Linked DNA regions of Homo sapiens: region 2 is linked to region 1. Evidence: fine-mapped expression QTL. Tissue or cell type: whole blood. Region 1 holds a variant in brackets; the other region holds the start of a gene. Each region is shown on its reference strand, or each on the opposite one.

Region 1 (10,560 bases):
TTTACTGTTGCTATGATTTAGAAAAAAAACCTTCAAATAGGAGTGTTTTTTTTTTTAATTTGTGTGTCATAGAGCACTTCATATTGGTTACTTGCAATTTTATTGAGCCCAATTATTATACTTCCAGTGTAGAAGTCTCCACCTTAGTGTACATGGTTGAGAAATCAAACAATATATTTGATATAATACCGTGTTAGGTCATTCTTGCATTCCTATAAAGAAATACCTGAGACTGGGTAATTTATAAAGAAAAGACACTTAATTGGCTCACGGTTCGGCAGACTGTACAGGCAGCATGGTGCAGGCATCTGCTTGCTTCTTGGGAGGACTCAGGGAGCTTTTACTCATGGTGGGAGGCAAAGTGGGAGCTGGTACTTCGTATGGGGAAAACAGGAGCAAGGGCAGGGGGAGGTGCCCCACACTTTTAAAGGACCAGATCTCCTGAGAACTCACTCTTTGTGGTGGGGACGTCACTAAGCCAGGAGGGATCCATCCCCATGACCCAAGCAGCTCCCTGCAGGCCCCACCTCCTACACTGGGGATTACATCTCAACATGAGATTTGGAGGGGACATCCAAACTATGTCAGATGGTGAAATTAGACCAAAGAAAAGCAGAAGCCACACAAAACAAAAGTGTTGTTTTTAGAATACAAGCTAGCATGAAAGAAAATCCTGGCTAGGGGCAACAAAATCATAGACTTTATTTTGATTCTCAACTGAAGAAATAGCTATGGATCCCTTTAGCATTATAACTAGCTGTTTTGGGAGTTGGAGGTGAAACTTTGGGATTTATGAAAAGGAGATTGAGTTTTTGTAGACTGAACAGCAGTGATCCAGAACAATGTGGAGTCCTCAGTTTCTGTGTTGTGCATTCATTCTACCATCTTGTGTTTGTGTACAGTCCCTGTGCCATACACTAAGCTACTTGTTTATGTCATTATTTTTAACTTGAATTATTTCAAAGGGATTTACAAAGAGTTTCAAGAAGCTGTTTCATAATAACATTATTGGAATAAATCATAAAAAGAAAAAATACATACTAGCTGTGAATTCTTTTATGATTGATGTGAGAGTATAATTGTTTTACAAAGTCCTGGAGAGACAGGGTAAATTAAACTCGTATAATGGGTTATTATACTATTCCTGCAATAGTCCCAGGCAGGAGTTCAGGAAGTCTGTGAACTAAAAGAGAAAAAAGTGCATCTTTTCTTTTTTCTAATCTCTAATTGTAATTTAAAATTTCTTTCATTTATCACTGTAGGTAAGAAACCACAATAGCATAGTAGTACCTGTGACCTTGCTGTCAGTACAGAATCACACATATTCATAATATCAACTAGTATTTATGCTCATCACAGCTTCAAAAACACTGTAGTTATTGGACCTGTCACTAGATTTCTTTTAATACCTCAGTAAAGAAGTCATATGTATTGCTAGATGACAAATTTTTGTTTTATTTTGTTTTTTGAGACAGGGTCTCACTGTCACTCAGACTGGAGTGCAGTGGTGTGACAAAGGCTCACTGCAGCCTCTCCCTCCCAGGCTCAATCAATCTGCAAGCCTCAGCCTCTCAAGTAGCTAGGACTACAGGTGTGTGCCATCGTGCCTGGCTTTTTTTAAAATTTTTATTTATTTATTTTTTTTGTAGAGATGGGTTTTTGCCATATTGCCCAGGCTGGTCTCTCAAAACTCCTGGGCTCAAGTATCCGCGCGCTTCAGCCTCCCTAAGTGTTGGGATTACAGGTGTGAGCCACCACGCCAGACCAAAAATTTGTTGTTAAAATGTTTTTAACTCTTTCAATATAATTGGCTTCATTTTCCTCCTATGTACTTTTTAAAGGAGTTTAACTTCATTATTCTGAGAAGGAGTCTATAGGTATCACCAGGCACCAAAGGGAACCAAAGCATATGAAAAGTTAAGTGCCCTATGGTAGAAGCAATCCCACTCCTCGGTATATACCCAAGGGAAAAGAATTCATTCTATCAAAACAGACACATCCACCCATATGTTCATTGCAGCACTATTCAAAATAGCAAGGACAATGGAATCAACCTAAGTGCCCAACAGCAGTGGATTGGATAAAGAAAATGTGGTACATATACACCATGATGGAATACTATGCAGCCATAAAACAGAATGAAATCATGCTCTTTGCAGCAATATGGATGGAGCTGGAAGCCATTATCCTAAGTGACCTAAGGCAAGAACAGAAAACCAAATACTGCATGTTCTCGCTTATAAGTGGGAACTAAACACTGAATACACATGAACATAAAGATGGGAACAATAGACACTGAGATCACTAGTGAGGGGAGGGAGGGGCCATGGGCTGAAAAGCCATTTGTTGGGTGCTATGTTTACAGCCTGGGTAATGAGATTGCTGACACCTCAAGCCTCAGTGTCATGCAGTTTATCCATGTAATAAACCTGCACATGTACCCTTTAACTTGTAATAAAAGTTGGAATAAAAAAAGAAACATGAGAAGCCTCTAAAATTACACTTGATCCCATTCCATACTTTTTAACAGACTGAAAATGCCTGTTCTATGATAAAAATAAAGAATAGTATATTTTGTCTTAAAAAAGAACTCTATAGTAGAAGAAAACACAACCACTCAGTAGAAAAAAATTCTTTTTGCAGACACTAAATAATAAAATGTAAAACAATCATACAAAAATATTTGCAAAAAGTATTCAGTGACATACTGGAAAAAATAGTTGACAGAAACGCATAGCCAATGCAAGAAGCATCTTTAATAAACACTCAATGAAAACCAAAGGCAAAACATTAGGAAAAAACATGAATTTAGGGTGGAGTGAACATGATGGCAGGAACAAGCTAGAGTGATGTAGGCGTGTGGTTTCTGATGATTTTATGTATTGATAGAACTTGGAAAATGCAGAGGAATGAATAGATAAGATAACACACATAATCAGAAAAGCCGCAGTTGCATGTTGCGGGACATAAATAGGGAAAGGAGTGATAGAATTAAAGTACATGCAAAGGAGGATGAAAGAGATGATCCAGCATCTGAAGAGAGAACCTAGACTGACTATACAGAAAAGGAGAAAGAAAAAGGTGGTAATTTCAGTGAAACGACTCAGTTCCTCTGCTCCTGGAGAAATTGGGGAGAATTCAGTGATATGGGAGCAGATTTGCAGGTAGAGAATAGGTTGGGAACCTTGCATTGCAGAAGGCAGTTAGAGAACCTTGAGAGGCTGAGAATTTCTGGAACAGAAAGATTGTGAGGCTTGCTAATGAAATCATCCAGGAAATGGCACTGAAAATGGTGGTTAGAAAGCACATTTTCTAAAGCTAGACTCGTTCTGTTGGGCTGGGTCAGAGAGGGTGTTCTCTGTCTGCTTCTAAGAGGTGGTGCTCACTAAATGCAAAGGTTGGTCTAGAAAAGGAAGGAACAACCAGCCCTACTGAAGATGCACAGAATGGCCTGAAGACAAAGATGCACAGAATGGCCTGAAGACAGCATTATGTGATATGGGCTATTGAAATTAGCACTCCTATCACCTGAACAGACGACAAATCCTCCTCTGTTTTTATCTACCAGTACTGGAAAGGGACATTGTATCAGTGGTGGTGGATCAGATAAATGATCAGGAAATGAAGGCCAGATTTGTCCAAGAGTTTTGTGTTCATATGAAGTCTTCACAAGGTTAACTTAGACTTCACAAAGTTAGGTTTATGCATAATGGTTATAGGTGCTAACATTTATTAAGCCACTTACTATGAATTCAGGTTTTGTCCTAAAAATGTAATATTTACTATTTACTTTAATCCTCAAAATAATTGTATGAGGTAGGTGTTATTATTATTCCATTTAACAGATATGTTTTAGTGTATTTTATGTTAGCCGTATGTCTTCCTGCGTGCTATAGATATAATTATAATGCCATATTCCTCAAAATGTCAGTCTGGAGTCTTAGAAATATTTAAGGCACCAGATGAGTGGCTCCATAATTTGGAAGAGAGGAGAAGATGAGTGTCATCAGAGTGAGTGTGGTTGGATGTGGCCAATCTTGAGAATTTTTGTCCCACCTTTCCTAGGTCTTGAGAGAAGAGAAAAAATGGATCTAGAGCAGACACAACTTTCCCAACATGTCCTTCTCTAAGGCAGAAGCATTCTCTTTTTTCTAGTAGCATCCATATTGCCTTGGGAGAACTACCCTAACTTTTCTATGTGGTTTGGGTGCAACTGCCTGGATTTCCTAGATCCAGGGCTGGACTCTTGACACAAGCCTGTCTATCAAGGTATTTCATTTTTCTGGTCAGAGATATTTGTTCAGCATTAGGCATGGATCAAGATGATCCAAAGGAGATTCTGCTGGGATGATGGGACAATTGTGGGTTTTTTTAATCCAACTAATACATTTACATTTACAAAAACCAATTGACCACCAAGTATGTGATAAGATAGGTATATACTTTAATTAAAGGAGTTCTGTGGTAAGAGCTATAGAGCAGCAGTCACCAACCTTTTTGGCACCAGCGGCTGGTTTTGTGGAAGACAGTTTTTTCCATAGACCCAGGGGGAGAATGGCTTCAGGATGATTCAAGTGCGTTACATTTATTGTGCACTTTATTTCTATTATGACATTATAATATGTAATGAAATAATTATATAACTCACCATAATGTAGAATCAGTGAAGCCCTGAGCTTGTTTTCCTGCAACTAGATGGTCCCATCTAGGGGTGATGGGAGACAGTGACAGATCATCAGGCATTAGAATCTCATAAGGAGCACGCTACCTAGACCCCTCCCATGTACAGTTCATAACAGGGTTCACACACCTATGAGAATCTATTGCTGCTGCCAACTGACAGGAGGCAGAGCTCACTTGCCTGGCTCACCTCTGGCTGTGTGGCCCAGTTCCTAACAGGCCACAGACCAGTACCAGTCCGTGGCCCAGGGATTGGAGACCCCTGTTTTATTGGGTCTGACAACCTAGACTGGGGTTATTAATGAGCAGCAGGTGGGGTAATCGGAGGAGGCAGGGTAGACAAAACTACTTTTGAAAATTTAAAGAATAATT[C/A]TTTGTTCTATCTCCTTTACTCAAACTGTTCCTGAAGTCTGCATATTATGTATTCATGAAGTTTGATAGTGCAAATGGTGAGTGGTCAGGGGAGGGGGGAGAGAGAGCAGGGAGAGGGAGAGGGAGGAAGAGAGAGAGAGAGAGAGACAGAGAGAGAGAGAGAGAGGCTTACAAAGAGGTTTCAGGGAATGGAGAAGAGCCCACCTGCCTCCTTTTCCTATCCCCCACCCCCATCGTAAGGCAGAGTCGTTCAGGCAACTTGTGGGAGACCAAGCTGGCCAGGAGCTGCCTCGTCACAGAGAAATAGCTTAGGATTTTTTCTCACCTCGTGAACTCTTCATTCTTTAATATGTAGCTTAACTGTCAGCAGTTAGTAGAGGACAAAGAGCACTTAGCATGGCAGGATCCCGAGTTGGTCAGACTTTGGTTCATCTCTCAGCATATGTGACCTTAGCTTGTTGCTTCACTTGTCTAAGCTACAGAGCCTCCTATGAGAAATAGGGGTCCTATACTTACCTCATAGGACTGTTGTGAGGGAGTAAATATAATCCCATAGCCTTTGTATACAAATCAAATACAGTAAGTCCTAACTTGGACTAACTTAATCACCTGATCTTGGAAACTGTGATTTTAAGTGAAACAATGTACAGCAGGTCCTCGATAACATTGACAGAGGAAAAAAAAAAGTTTTTTTAATATGTCATTTTACTTAAAGTCACAGTTTCTCAGAACTTAATGACATTGAGGATTTACTGTATGCTATCATAATTATTTCTTTATATATATATAATGATCTCTTTCAATACACAGGGAGCTACTTTAATACAGGGCTACTTTATATTCTAAGTACTTAATACCTAGTACTTAACAAAATTCTTAATAATGTTGGTTAAGTATAATCAGATAATATATTATCTGGGATACATATGGGGCTGGGATTTCAAGAAATAAGTTGTCAGAGTCAGCAAGAAACCATGAAGACTTAGCAAAATTGCCTTTCCTCAGGTTCCTTCCTCCCATGACTGTAGGCTCTGAAATCCCAACACCGGGTAGCTTTATATGGTTTGAAGCAAGATTACTGCTCTTCTCCTTCTGTCTAGACAATAATTCTGAAGCCCACTCTCATCACCTGTTTCAGTGGCAGACTTTTCTCCTGGCCTCACCCAGCTCTGAGCTTTCTTAATGCACGCGCATCAAACAGCTTTAAATCTGACTGTTTTAAATTGAACTGACCAGTTGTTTTTGCCTCTTACTGACCCAGCCTAACAGATAATCTTGTGTCTTGTAGACCAAACAAATGGATGATTTAATAGGGTAAAATTCAGTCAACTGTTTAAAAACTATAAATAACTGATGCATTCATGTCTCCAAACTCTTTATTGCCTCAAATTTTATGTTGATGTAACTGTGTTTACTTTGCTTTACAAGTTAAAGCCAGCGTGGTCTATAAAAAGTTAAGAGCTCTTAGAAAGACAAGACTAGATCACAAAAGTTATTTTACTACAATGCAAGATGAAAGTAGTGCTTACCAAGTGTTTCATGAGAGGCGATGATTATTAAATACATGAGCACACTTTCAGGTAAGAAAAAATAATAAAATAACCTAAAAAGTTAATAATGTCTCTTTGAATATATTATTTTGGATATCTATCTATATTTGAAGATACTTTTATTATCTAAGATTCTATTAAAGATAATTCAGTGTAAATGTAGTGCTTATTTTTTGTTAAATTGGTCTCCTCTAAACCAAAGTTATATAAATTAGTCATGGGTTCAGAAGAAAAAGATGGAAAGAGGAAATATACTATGACGAGAGACGCAGGAATCAATTTTTTGATATGTCACGTAACTTGAAATAATTTGGCAATTGGACAATAGAGTTGTCTCTTTTATTAGCACATTCAAACAGCAGCAGAAAACAACCTTCCATTTGATTCTTACTGAGATTTATTATTTTTAATAATGCCACTTTTCAGAAGTATAGTCATGTGCTCACTTAGACAGGCTGACGAAGTGAAAACTTGTATGTGATGCAAAGTACCCTTTGGGCCATCGATTAAGACATAATATAGTGCAGTGACAAGTCAAGTCAAATGCCCGCAGCAGACAACAAACCCCAGCCTCCCCTTCCCATGGCCTGGCTCCCATTTTGCACCATAGAACCCACAATGGAAATCTGGCAAGACATAGAACACATATGGCTACTGACTGACATGAAAAGTAAATTTTATTAAACATGTTTACATACATGAATTGGAATTTCATTTAAAAGCACAGGGGAGTGTTAAGACAAGTGGTCAAAATAGAAAGATACTACCCAATTATAATCAGTTGATTGTTGGCCACTAAGACAGAACGGAATCTAGTAGAAGTGCACCAATGCTTCAGTTCCTCCTACTCAGCATGGTGAGCAGTGGTCAATCTGTGCCCTGTGGAATGATGGGCAGATAATTCTGGCATGTGTAAATAATAATAAATAATTCACTTGGTGCAGGCAGTATGTCTATGAATTAAAACCTAGTGTGTACACAGTGTCTACATGTGTTACAGCCCCACAGTAGGAATCTACACCAAAATATTTATTAGAAGGAATTTGGTCCGTACTACATCACGTTTTCCGGAGGGTAAAAAATAAAGTCCATCTATAGACATTTCACCACAGACCCAGAGACTGAGTCTGGCTAAAACCTGCAAAATGTCTATAACAAAAGTGGATGGCTTAGATTTCTTGGTTATTTCGGTATAGTAATTAACAAGCAAACTGTACAAGTACATGCAACATACAAGCTGGCCTATGTGGAACTAACATACATTATTAAATAACCTTTTGTTTCTTTTCTTTTTAAAATTTTTTTTTTTTACAAAATGTGCATGCAGCTCTGAACAGTTCCAAGTCATGCTGCTCTATTTGTGTAATCACAAAAGTGGAGTGACTCATAAAAGGAGGGAGAACATATCAATGCACCTGCAGAGACTGCAGTTTGTAGCACATGTACAGAATGTCACAAGGGAAATTCAAGGCCAAGAGAAACTAAATGAAAATGCAAATTGAAAGTTCATTTTGTTTATTTTCCCCCCAAAAAGTAAGATACTTTGCATTAAAAAATCAAGCTTTGTGCTTGCATCAATCTCAAAGAAATGTAAACTAAAATTCAATAAAAACAATAGTTTAGTGCAGAATATTTCAACTGGAATTTCCAGTGGAATATTGAACAGCTCATACCATGCTCTTTCCAGGGCAGATGGATGTGTCTACACTGAGGTATGGCTGAGAAGCCTGGGCATAGCTCAAAGTGTCTTAGGCTCAAATCCATTCCTAGTCACCATTTTTGGGAAGTCAAAGTATGGTTTATACACATGAGCATTTTTTTAATATCAGGAAGAAAAAGGCATTACAAGGAGTGTTTTCAAAGTACAATTATGCAGTTAGTTTTAGTCCCCAGCATTAGTTGCAGATTGACTTCTTTAAAAGTCTTCCATGCAAAACAATGGAAACCATAAATTAATTTTCTAGAATGCAAACAGATAGGCTCTTCATTAAAAAAGTACTTCTGTGATTATTTATTTTGGAAGATAACTTTTTGTCTCTTGGGTATCCACACATAAGACTTTAAATAATTATAAAATGAAAGCTAGTGAAACCCTTCCTTGGCTTCACCTTATGTAGCTGTTTAACACTTTGGGGAGATGCTACAGAGACTACTTCAGCCCTTTTTTTTGGTGCTTTTGGAAAAAAGAAGGGAAGAATCTCTGTTAGCATCATGAGGCCTGTCATGACACAGCCAAAAAAAAACTAGTGGAAATAACAGATGTGGTGAAAACAAAACAAAAACTCAAGAAACGAAAACCAACAAACAACACACAAATAAACAAAACACACAAAAGAACAAAACAACTCAAACATCAGGGAAATAACACTGCTTGTGGTCTGTGCAGAAATGTGTAGAATACAACTTTTCACAGAGTGAGAGTTTCCAGTTTGTTCAATTTGGTGTGTGTGTGTGTGCATGTGTGTGTGTACGTGTATGCGTGGATTTAAAGTTTCCTCTTTTTCTATTTGTTAGAAGCATCAGTGACTCTCACCAGCATGTTGATTCTTCCTGTAAATTTGATAGATTGCCTTGTTCTGTCATATGAAGCCATGTTTTAAATAACAATTGGGACATATTATTGAAAAACTACTACAGGCAAAACACAAGTTGATTGTCTGTCTCCAACAATGCTTTCGATCATGAAATATCTGGTTCAGATTATTATCCTGAAAAGTAGAGTTTTATTGGAATGACTCTGGTATGAGTTCACTATGATCGAATACAGGGAGGCCCAGTTGAACTTTCCAGAGATGACTGGGAAGCCCGCCGGGTGAGGGGAGTGAGTGTGGGATCCACCAGTGAGGACGGTGGGAACAATTTGTACCATCCGATCACCATGCTGGACAGGTCGAGTTCTTCCAACAAGATCTGAGCCACACCCATAAAGCATTTGTGGTCCATTCTGCCATAGTCTCCCCAGACAATCACCTGCAGAGATAGAGAAATGCAACATTACCTGGACTTCTCTCTGCTTCACATTCGAAGGGCTCAAAGCAACTATGCTGTAAAAGTGGGCCAGTCAGTGAAGCAGAGGAAAAGAATAATGAATACAACTATCACCAAGGAGAAGGCACAGATAAGAAGATACACTAACCTTAAGGTGCTCATAGACACTTCACAATAATTTTAGTCTGATGGAATGAAGGATTGTGTGTTCCTAGTCAATGAGGAGTATTAGCTACATAAGCCATGTTAAAGAAATAAATACATAAGAGTATTTTTATATGAATGCAACACCTTTCTTGTGTAACTACTATCTAATTAGCGATGTACAGGACCATAAAAATCTAAAAATTAAAATTTGTGCAATTTAGGAGGGCAAGATGAGCAATCCAACTCAGTATACCATGGAATGTATGTACCAGAAAGTATGTACAAAGAATGAGAGTATTCATTTGATTTCTTTCGTATTATGGTCTTTTTAGTGAAGGGGTAGGTCAAAAAATAATTGTGAGCTGGTACCTTTTGAGGACTTGCCTGCCAATTTTGATTTAGATGATTAATATTTCAATTAGATCATTAAAAATTACCACAATCTAGGTCAACTTCTATTGGCTACTAGTGTCAGACAAGCCTTCCATTTCACATACTCCCAGGTTCTATTTTCTAATACTTCAGTCGTCTGTAAAGGTTCTCAACTGAACTCATTCACCTGTTTTACACAAGCAGAGTTGGTGGTGAATCATGTCTTTAAAATTTACTGAGTAATTTTGTGAAATTACTTTACCTCTTGAATCTCAGACATAATCTTTAAAATGGGGATAATGATACTTATTGCACATGTTAGTTACAAAATTTAAATAATGTATATAAGCACCTAGAAATGCATCTGGTACTCCACCAGGGCTCAATATTTGCTGGTGTCTGCACACTTCTCTTTTCCTCTCCCTCTTCCTCTTTGTACCCCATGTTTGGT
Region 2 (10,560 bases), not on the chromosome of region 1:
AGGTGGAAGTTTGCTGCAGAAGCAGAGCCCTCATGGAGAACCTCTGCTAGGGAAGTGTTGAAGGGAAATGTGGGGTTGGAACCCCGACACAGAGTCCCTACTGGGGCACTGCCTAATGGAGCTGTGAGAAGAAGACCACAATCCTCCAGACCCCAGAATGGTAGATCCACTAACAGCTTGCACCATGCACCTAGAAAAGCTGCAGACACTCAACGCCAGCCTATGAAAGCAGCCAGGAGTGGGGCTGTACCCTGCAAAGCCACAGGGGTGGAGCCCAAGGCTATGGGAGTTCAGCTCTTGCATCAGTGTGACCTGGATGTGAGACATGGATACAAAGGAGATCATTTCAGAGCATTAAGATTTGGCTGCCCTGCTGGATTTTGGGCTTGCATGGGGCCTGTAGCCCCTTTGTTTTGGCCAGTTTCTCCCATTTGGAATGGTTGTATTTACCCAGTGCCTGTACACCCATTATATCTAGGAAGTAACTAAGCTTGCTTTTGATTTTACAGGCTTATAGGTGGAAGGGACTTGCCTTGTCTCAGATGAAACTTTGGACTTGGACTTTTGGGTTAATGCTGGAATGAGTTAAGACTTTGGGGAACTGTTGGAAGGCATGATTAGTTTTGAAATGTGAGGACATGAGATTTGGGAGGGGTCGGGTGGAATGACATGGTTTGGCTCTTCTTCACCCAAATATCACCTTGAATTTTAATAATCCCCACGTGTTGGGGGAAGGACCCAGTGGGAGGTAATTGAATCATGGGGGTGGATTCTTCCCATGCTGTTCTCATGATAGTGAATAAGTCTCACAAGATCTGATGGTTTTAGAAAGGGGAGTTCCTCTACACATGCCCTCTTGCCTGCCGCCATGTAAGACATGCCTTTTGCCTTCTGCCATGATTTCAAGGCCTCCCCAGCTATGTGGAACTGTAAGTCAATTAAACCTCATTTTTAAAAAAATTACCCAGTCTCAGGTATGTCTTTATCAGCAGCCAAGACCAGCTCGGTCGCGGAGATCCTAACCCAGCAGTGCTAGAGGAATTAAAGACACACATAGAAATATAGAGGTGTGAAGTGGGAAATCAGGGTTCTCACAGGCTTCAGAGCTGAGAGCCCCAAACAGAGATTTACCCACATATTTAATAACAGCAAACCAGTCATTAGCATTGTTTCTATAGATATTAAATTAACTAAAAGTATCCCTTATGGGAAACCAAGGGATGGGCCGAATTAAAGGAATAGGTTGGGCTAGTTAACTGCAACAGGAACACGCCCTTAAGATGCAGATTGCTCATGCTATTGTTTGTGGCTTAAGAACGCCTTTAAGCGGTTTTCCACCCTGGGTGGGACAGGTATTCCTTGCCCTCATTCCTGTAAACCCATAACCTTCCAGCTTGGGCATTAGGGCCATTATGAACATGTTACAGTGCTGCAGAGATTTTGTTTATGACCAGTTTTGGGGCCAGTTTATGGCCAGATTTTGGGGGGCTTGCTCCCAACAGACTAATACACCCATTTTCTGGTATGTGACTCTAAAGTCCTTAGAATCTTCAAAGTGATGTCTTTTTCAAGCTAATAATTGACTGATGACTGGCAGCCCCTAGGCAACTTCAGAATGAGGCTGGTCACTGACCCAGGTAGGATTAGAGGGTTGGGACTTTCAGCCTCACCCCTAATCCCTGGGGAGGGACCTGGAGTTTGAATTAATCACCAATGACCAATGAATCAATTAATGGCCAATGATTGAATCAATTAATGGCCAATGATTAAATCAATCATATCTATGTCATGAACCCCAAAAGGACTGGGTTTGAAGAGCTGAACCCATGGAAGTTTCTGGAGTGTGGTGCATCTGGGGAGGGCATGGAAGCTCCACACCCCTTCCCACATGCCATGCTCTGTGCATCTCTTCATCTGCATCCTTTGTAAAGTCCTTTATTACAAACCGGTAAGCCTAAGTATGTGTTTCCCTGAGTCCTGAGAGCTGTTTGAGCAAACTAATCCAACCCAAACAGGGAGTCATGGAAACCTCAATGTGAAGCCAGTCATAAGAAGCTCTGGAGGCCCAGACTTGTGACTGGTGGGAAGGTGGTGGCAATTTTGTGGGACTGAGCCCTCTGCTGATATGTCCAGGTAGATAGTGTCAGGATGGAATTGGAGGACACCTAGCTGATGTACGGTGCAGAACTGATTGGCTGCTGGGTGTGTGGGAGAAACCCCCCCCCATCACATTTGGTCACAGAAGTGTGTCTGTGTTGATGATTGTTATTGTGGAGTGAGAGCAGAGGAAAAACACAGTTTGAGTTTTTCCAAACAGGGTGGAATCCCATCTGCCAATTTAGAATCTGAAACTTATAGTTTCAGTACTTCAATTAAGATTGAAGTACTTCAATTCAGTACTTCAATTAAGATTCAGTACTTCAATTAAGATTCAGTACTTCAATTAAGATTACAGAACTGGTAAGTGAAAGTGATACAACAAAAATGTAACCAAAGTCTGCTCAACTTAACAGCTAATAACAACAAAGTTCATAAAAATAATACCAGTCGATATTGATAGCACTGATTGAGCCCTGGCTCTGTGCATGACCTTGTTAAGGGCTTTAATCGCATTAATCTCTGAATAAATATCCTCACAACCACCCTGAGGTCCAGGTGTTTGTAACAATTCTACAGATGAGGAAACTGAGGCCCAGGAGGTTGAGTGTCTTGCCCAAGGTCAAATACCTGGTACCTATTGTAACCAGGATGATAACTGGATGAGTCTAATCCCTGAGTTCTTACCCACATTGCTCCCCAGGCTCTGAAGGAATCTCATCCTTCTCATTCCGTGTATCATTTTACACCCCCCCTCCCTCCTAGGAAAATATACAAGGAAAGGAGTGAGAGGGGCCGAGGGTCACTCACATTTTACAGTCAGCTTGAGGGGGTCGCTCCTGTTGGAGCTGACTGGGTTGGAGACCTCACACTGATACTCCCCAGCGTCCTCCTGCCTGATGGGGTCTATGGTGAGCACATGGTTAAACCAGGACAGCTTCATCCTCTTCGTGACCTGCAGACGCTGGTTGTTGAAAATCCACTGGAAAGAGGTTCCAGTGTTATTTGTGTGGCAGGTCAGGACCACGGAGCCCTTCTCTGTGACTGTGGTGCTGCTGGCTTGGATGGAGGGCTGAGCCACTGACTCTGTGGATAGAGTGACCAACAGAAAGTGTCTTGGGGCCATGCTGCATCCTCAGAGATCTCAGAGTCAAATTTAGAACATTCTCCTGTGAATAAAGGAGAAAGATGAAGGACAGGGAGGAGCAGAGAGAACCAGAGACACCCATAGCAGCGAGCAGTAGGGACTACAGTGACCTCAGAGACCCCAGGGACCAGGAGGACCCAGCTGCCTCAGACCAGGACCAGGGAGCCCTGAAAACCCTCCCACAGATGAGCGGCCCCAGAGTCACATGAGATGCAATACCTGGGGTGGCTTTAGGAGCAGGCAGTCAGAGAAATGGAACATGGGTCTCAGCCCCTAAGGGACAAGGAAGAGGTGTGGCCAGCTCCTCCTAGGATCCTACATCCAGGACCCAGTCTGTAAAGAGGTTATGATTATTCCTTTCTTTTTTCATTAATTCCCTCCCTCCTTCATCAGAGAACTACTGAGTGTGTGTCTCAGTTGGGCCTTGTGCAGGTACAGGGTGTAGTGGGAAGAGAAAGCTGAGTCCTTTCCTTCATCCTCCCATGGGAGTGACATCAACAAATCAAGAAATTCATGATTTCACGTCCAGTGAGGGAAGGAATGTGGATCTGATGGGAGAGGCTTGGACAATCCTGGCATTGAGTCTGATAGTTGAGACAGGTGATTTCGTTCTAAGTAAAAACTGACTAATTCTCCATTTGCCCGTCATTCCTCAGACCAGAATCTCCCTCTCTGAGCTGAGGATGCCCAAGAAGAAAGGAGCTGAACCAACATCTGGTCCTGGGGTCCACAGATGCCCCACGGTGGTGGCCACGACCAGATTCTGGGCTGCAGACACACGGTGGTGTGACGTTGAGCACTGACAGCCTGTGTGATGCTGATGCAATTTCTCTTTAATAAAATGGGGTACATGTCAATGGTCCCTGGCTTGCCATCCTCTCTGTAAATTAACATTAAAATATTTACAATTACCTGACCTAAAGCTTGGCACAGAATAGCTCCAAATAAACATCATCTATTATTATTTTACTCCAAAAAAAAAAAAAAAGAGTTCTCTGGGCCTGATTCCTGGTGGAGAAGGAGCGGTCCAGAGTGTCTTTTCTCTGCTTTCCCTCCTCCTGAGGACAGTGCACTTCCCGGGACATCTTTTAAGTTTCCCATCCAGTTTAATGGCCTGGGAAGTTTGTTTGTCTGTCCTCTCCACTCTGACTCTCAGGTGAAAGATGAGGCTCTGCCCTTGCCCAGATGGGGCTCTGGGGGCTGAGCCCTGCCTGGTGACCAGCTCTAGGAACCACGGCCCTGGGACAGCTGGTAAATCCTTGCTCACAATCAGCCCTGCCCAGGAAGCCACAACCCAGCCCTGGCACAGGCTCCCCAGGGTCATCTGGAGTCAGGATCTTGGGACAGGGGCCTGGGGCAGGGGCTTCAAGGGCTGAGCTTCTCTCAGAGGATCCTCAGGCCAGGCCCTGACTGAGTCCTATAAGATCTTTCTCAGGTCATGTCTATGAGGAGGAGGCCAAGGGGGGTTGGACTGAGACTGATTTTCCCCCGCTGCATCTCCCGCATCAGACTATCCTTCTTGCTGTAGGGAATTTCCACGGAGTCCGGATAAGGGAAAGGAATTCTGATCTGTTATAGTTTGTCTCCCCTGGGTGTGTCCTGCACTAAATGCCCAAACCCCAACATGGGACGTAATGCAGAGGGGGATGCAGGCACAGCCCAGGCCTGACAATCCTGCGTATGTGAAGCAGAACTGACCCCCAACACCCAGAGGCACGGAGGAATCACTCACCGTATACACGGAGATGGTGAGATGCCTGTTCAATCTGAGAATTTCTGTATGTGACTTGTAGGTTGTAGTATCCCGTGTCCTCTAGGGTGACGTTCTGGAAATGCAGATCTCCACTGGGTGATATTGTCTCTCGACCGCTGTATGCAGGCCCTGGAGTCCTAACGTGAGTGTCTATTACATATGCTGCGATTAGCTGGTTGGGCTCCACCGTTTTCCCTTTGTACCAGCCATAGCTGTAAAGATTCTCGGGCAGATAAACCACAGAGAGATGAACATTCTCCCCTTCAGCAACTTCAAAGGGCGCTGATGCAATAAAGAGCCAGGCAGTGGTGGGTGCGTTCCAGAAAGTTAAAAGTGAGGCTAGGAAAGGGAGAGAATATCAGTCAATATTTGACCTATGCATTGGCATGGAAAGACGGGGTCCTGGGTGCAGGTCTCTTCACCCCTCAGCCTTAGAGGGTGTGTGTGTGTGTGTGTGTCCTACTGGGTCAAAGTCAGCAGCATGACCCTCATTCCTTCAGTACCTCTGACCTTGGCATTTCCTTGTGTGAACCCTCTTTCCCAGGGGTCTGCATGGTTCCCTCCCCACTGCCTTCAGTTCCTACTCACACAAGGGAATCCCTGGGAGACTTCTTTCGTGAAGCCTCCTCTAGAGACCCTGGGTCTTCCCTTTCTGACCTTTCCCAGCTCTGTTCCCTCCAGGGCTCTTGTCAGCACCTGACCTCACATTCTAGATCTCTTTGGGTGTCTGTCTTCCCCCCCATGAGATTGTGAGCTCTGTGAGGGCATGGACTTGAGTGATGTTAGTTGCACCCCAGTGCCTGGGACAGGCTGCAGACTCCTGTGGATGAGTTCATGAGCGTTCCCAGGGCCTTCCATATCCTGGGGTTTATTTGCTAATGTCTGAGGTTGGCAGATGAAGACAGAGTTTCATGCCCTGGTGGTGTTTTTATTTAAATTGTCACTGTGATATAGTTTTACTATCATTTTCAAAGTGTAGTGGCCACTGACAATGAACTTGAAAACATGGACCAACTGAGATTGTTTTGCCCCTTGGCAATTCCAGTTCACTTAGATTTTTTGGTTCTCCTTAGACGCTCTCTCCCCTGAGTCTCTAACAAAAGCCCTCTGTCTCCTCTCAGAGCCCCATCCTCCCCAGGAGACCCCAGCCAGTCTCTGTGCTCCCTCCTCCCACCCACTCCCAGGGAGTCCTCCCCTCACCTGTGAGCAAGAGCCCCTGCCAGGGGATGCATTCTCTGTGGGGACAAGCTGAGGGGGGCCCCATGGTCTCTGCTGCCTGCTCTGTCCTCCTCTGTGGAGAGGAGCTTGGGCTCCAGGAACGCTCTAGACAGGGTTACTGTGACTGTTGTCTCTGCTGTCCTTCCTTCCTCTATGCTGAGCTTCCTCTCAGGCAGGAGCACTTCCCGTTTATGGGCAAGGGCGGGGCTCTGCCTACAATGTCTCTCTGTCCCCTCCCCTCTCAGTCCTGCCTCCCTTGTCCCTCCTTTCTCCTTCCTTTTTGCCTATATTTGGTTCCCTAGGCAAAACTTTGAGAAGCAACGCTGATGGGGTCCTCATAACAGGACGACCCACTCTCCCCAGTACTGACCTCTGCTGTGTTCTGGCCTTGGTTCTGTCACAGCCGGTAGATTATTTCCCTTTGTGACACACAAAACCAGCTGGGCCCTGGGTCTCCTCATGCTCTCCAGTGCTCCAGGAAGGCAGAATGATGCCCAGCAGGAAAGTGACAGAGGTGGCTCTGGGGGCTAGAAAGGGGCTCACTGGGTGATGGCTGGGAAGGACCCACCCGCTATCTTCAGTGTCACCAGCCTGGCCTCTGACCCAGGGACAGAGACCCAGGCCTGGAGGTCTCGGGAGGATCCCCAGCTCCTAGGTGTGGAGGGAGGTGTCCTGTGTGTCCTGGGAAGAGAGGACTTTGATGGAAGGAGGTGGGAGGCTCTGGGTTCTGCTGTCCTTGGTGAAGGTTTCAGGGGGACCCTCTCCGTGTCTGGGGTCTGTGCCCCCAGCTTAACTCTCATTCTCTTTGCAAATACATATATTTTGTGGATCTGCAGTTGCCTGAACTGTCTCATGTCCCTAAATCTTTGTATCCCTTTTTACAGAAGGTCAGGAAGGGTGTGTACATGAGTATGAGGACTATCTGATCAGGGCGAGTGTTTGTTTCCCAAAGATCTCTTTAGATATGGTATAATACATAAGATAAATGTACTGAATTAGCAATTTTAAGTGTAGAATTAAATGATACTAATTCTATTCACAATGTTGTACAACCATCACCATAATTTTTTACCAGAAAATCTTCATTATACCAAATGGAAACTTCATACTTTTAATCAATAACTCCCCACTTCCCCCTGCCCCACCCACTGGTAGCCTCTGATACTATCAATCTCTGTGAATTTGCCTAGTTTACATGTCTCATATAATAAGGAATTATATACGTGTATTATTTTTTTCTGGATTATTTCTCTTAGGGTAACACTTTTAAGATTCATCCACGTCGTAGCATATATTACAGCTTCTTTCCTATTTATGGCTGAGTAATATCCCAATATATGTTTATACCTCAATTTTAATTCATTCATCTCTTAATGGACATGTGGGTGGTTTCCACATTTTTGCTATTGTGAAAACCGCTGCAATGAACTTACACTTGGAAGTATCTGTTTGGGTTTCTGTGTTCATTTCTTTGGGGGTACATATAGGAGTATAAATATGGGGTCATGTGGTAGTTCTATGTTTAAGTTTTTGAGAAACAGCCAAACTGTTTTCCAGTTTGCTGTGCTATTTTATATTCCCATCAGCAATATACGAGGGTTCCATTTTCTCTACATTCTTGTAAACACTTACTATTTAATATTTTTTAAAACTTATAGCCATTCTAGTAGGTGTGAAGTGATAGCTCATTGCAGTTTTGATTTTCATTTCCCTGGTGGCTGATGAAGTTGAGCATTTTTTCATGTATTTGCTGACAATTTTAATATTTTTTAGAGAACTATTTATTCAAATCATTTGCTGTTTAAAAAAAATGGGTTATCTTTTTATTATTCAGTTGTAATAGTTCTTTATATATTTTAGATACAAGTCCCTTATGGGGTACATGATTTGCAAAATTTTTCTCATATTCTGTGTCTTCTCACTTTCTTCATGGTGTTCTTTGAAGCACAAACATTTTTAACTTTGATGAAGTTCACTTATCTATTTTTAATTTTGTTACTTATGCTCTTGATGTCATATTGAAGAAACCATTGCCCAATCCAAGATCATTAAGTTTTACTCCTATATGTTCTTCTAATGGTTTGATAAGTTTTGCTATTCCATTTAGGTTTTTGAAACATTTTGAGTTAACTTTTGTATGGGCTGTGAGGTAGGGGTCTAACTACACTATCTCGCATGTGGTTATCCAGTTGTTCCAGCACAATATGAAGAGGCTACCATTCTTTCCCCATTGAGGAATCTTGGCACCCATGTCAAAAACCAATGGGCTGTAATGGTGAGGGTTTATTTCTGGACTCTTGATTCTATTCCATTGATCTCTATGTGCATTCTTGTGCCAGAAGCACACTGTTTTAATGATTGTAGTGTTTTAGTAAGTTTTCAAATTAGGAAGTGAGTCCTCCAATTTTTTTTTCCAGATTGTTTTGGCCATTCTGGGGTGACTTTTAAAAAAGATGTAGTTCAATGGTTCTCAAAGCAGGAGTGGTTCAGCTCTCCTTTTTTGGCAGTCTGGAGACCTTTTTAGGACCTTAATCTAAGTAGATAAATTATTCCCACTTTCTTTTCTGAGTTGCTATGTTACAGTGTATATTGACACCCATGAAATAATTGAGAGACCCTGGAAGTGCTTGCCTACATAGTGAGGGACAATTAGTTCCATGATCATGGGCACAGAAGATTTTGTTTTGGGAAACAATTTTGTTGGTGGAGTTATATTCATGCTTACTCTTTTATTTGTCTTCATAGCCTGCATCTCCTTCAGACTTCATATCTGTTTATTTTCTTGTTTGTCCTCTGGGGTTTGGGTGTTGGGTGACCAGTCAGCTGGAGCTGGAGGAGGTGCTTAGCAAGGCAGTGACCCTGGTTGGGAGGAGCAGGGCTCAGCAGGGTGAAAGTAGCTGGGCCTTGAGTCAGGAGTGGCATCTGGAAGGCCTGACTGTAAGGGTCAGAAGGGCCAGCAGGTGGGTGTCCTAGGCACAAACGGTGGCTGCTGCTGTGGACTGGAGGAAGGTAAGAGGCCCCGAGTATTCCATGTTCTTACTGGCTCCCCAACTGAGGATTCCTCTCCTGGGCTGGTGCTGTCCTGCAGCAGGGAGGGGTTAGACAGGGACGGCTGCACATCAGGCCGGAGTCCATGTCATCCTCTTAGGCACTGTCACTACAGATTGAGGATTCTGTTCATAAGCCAAGCCTTTGCACAAGGAAGGGACCCGGGCTCTCAAGGAAGAGCAGCTCCTGGTCAGACCTCCATCTCCTTCTCTCTCATTGCCTGAGGCCTCAAGCTTGGTCTACCTGGCACAGGGGTCTGGATCCTCCTCCCAGGGTTGGGGTCTTACTGAGCTGGGCACCTGCAGGTGGGAGAAGATCTGGAGGGGCCCCATCTGCCTTCACCAGATTGATGTTGAGGGTCCCTGAGTCCTGCACCACTATCAGGTGCTGAGCAACTTCCAGTGTCAGTGACAACCACCCCATGGTGGAAGCAGAACCACCTCGTGAGAAAGCACCTCCAAGCCTCAGTGCTTGCCATGTGTGGGAATTTGCTGGTTTCAGTTGGGGGCATGTTGGTGGGTGGTCATGAATTCAGGGCCGGATTCTATGCTCACAGTGCACATGCTGGATGTGGTACAGACCCCAGGCAGGGCTCAGTGGGGTGGTTTTGGGTGTGCACAGGTATCTTTTCTGGAGGAGCTGGTGGTGATTTGGCTCCCAGAAGTTCCTGAGCTCTGCAGACTCACCAAGCACTCAATATTTGAGTGAACATTGGGCGAGAGAGCAGAAGGTAAGTGTCAGGGCATCGGGGTTGGTGCCTCTGGGAAGAGGAGGAACATTCTGGGAACAAAGCTCTCCCCCGGCTTACAGGGAGCTTCCCATCGCTCCTGCCTTGAGGATCAGGGAAACTAGGGCCTCTGCTCTTCCAGGGGCTGCTTGCAGGCAGTTTGCTCTGGGAGGGGGTGACCCAGGAGTTGCCTCTCATTTTGCATTTGAGATTTAAAAGGAGAAGGGACAGTATATCTTGCCAGGTCACAAAAATTACAGGCATCATATTGACTGAAGGGCACTCCTGTCATCATTGCAATATACCAGAATGGTCTTTTAAAAAAATAAGTGATTTAGGTTTACCAGCAACTGTAATGCTTGTTTTATTCTTCTAGTTCACCGTTAATGTCACTTTTGTAGTTTTAGCACTGGCAATGTTGATTTTATGTTGACTCTGATGATTTTAAGCTTTCATTTGTTCACATAGAGATCATCTTCTTTCTGAATATTAATGCATTTTTTCTCTATTTCTACTGGTTATTCCTGTACATAGAGTAGAGAATCACTTTTCCCAAGGAGGTGGAAAGCT

The links. PIP is the estimated chance that this variant, and not a neighbour inherited with it, causes the effect.
Region 2: it holds the start of CEACAM21, and the variant in region 1 is fine-mapped to the expression of CEACAM21 in whole blood (TOPMed, PIP above 0.99).

The regions. Positions count from the first base shown.
Region 1 is chr6:72,399,508-72,410,067 of GRCh38, reverse strand. RIMS1 (regulating synaptic membrane exocytosis 1) reads right to left here. Exons shown (of 34, transcript NM_014989.7): 34 at 6,923-9,572. The coding sequence ends at 9,354. Among named protein-coding and RNA genes, the nearest start is that of KCNQ5, 220 kb to the left of the region's middle. The variant C/A (reference allele first, on the strand shown) is at 5,053.
Region 2 is chr19:41,571,976-41,582,535 of GRCh38, reverse strand. It overlaps CEACAM21 (CEA cell adhesion molecule 21), which reads right to left and starts at 6,370. Exons shown (of 7, transcript NM_001098506.4): 1 at 6,198-6,370; 2 at 4,977-5,336; 3 at 2,908-3,183. The coding sequence starts at 6,261.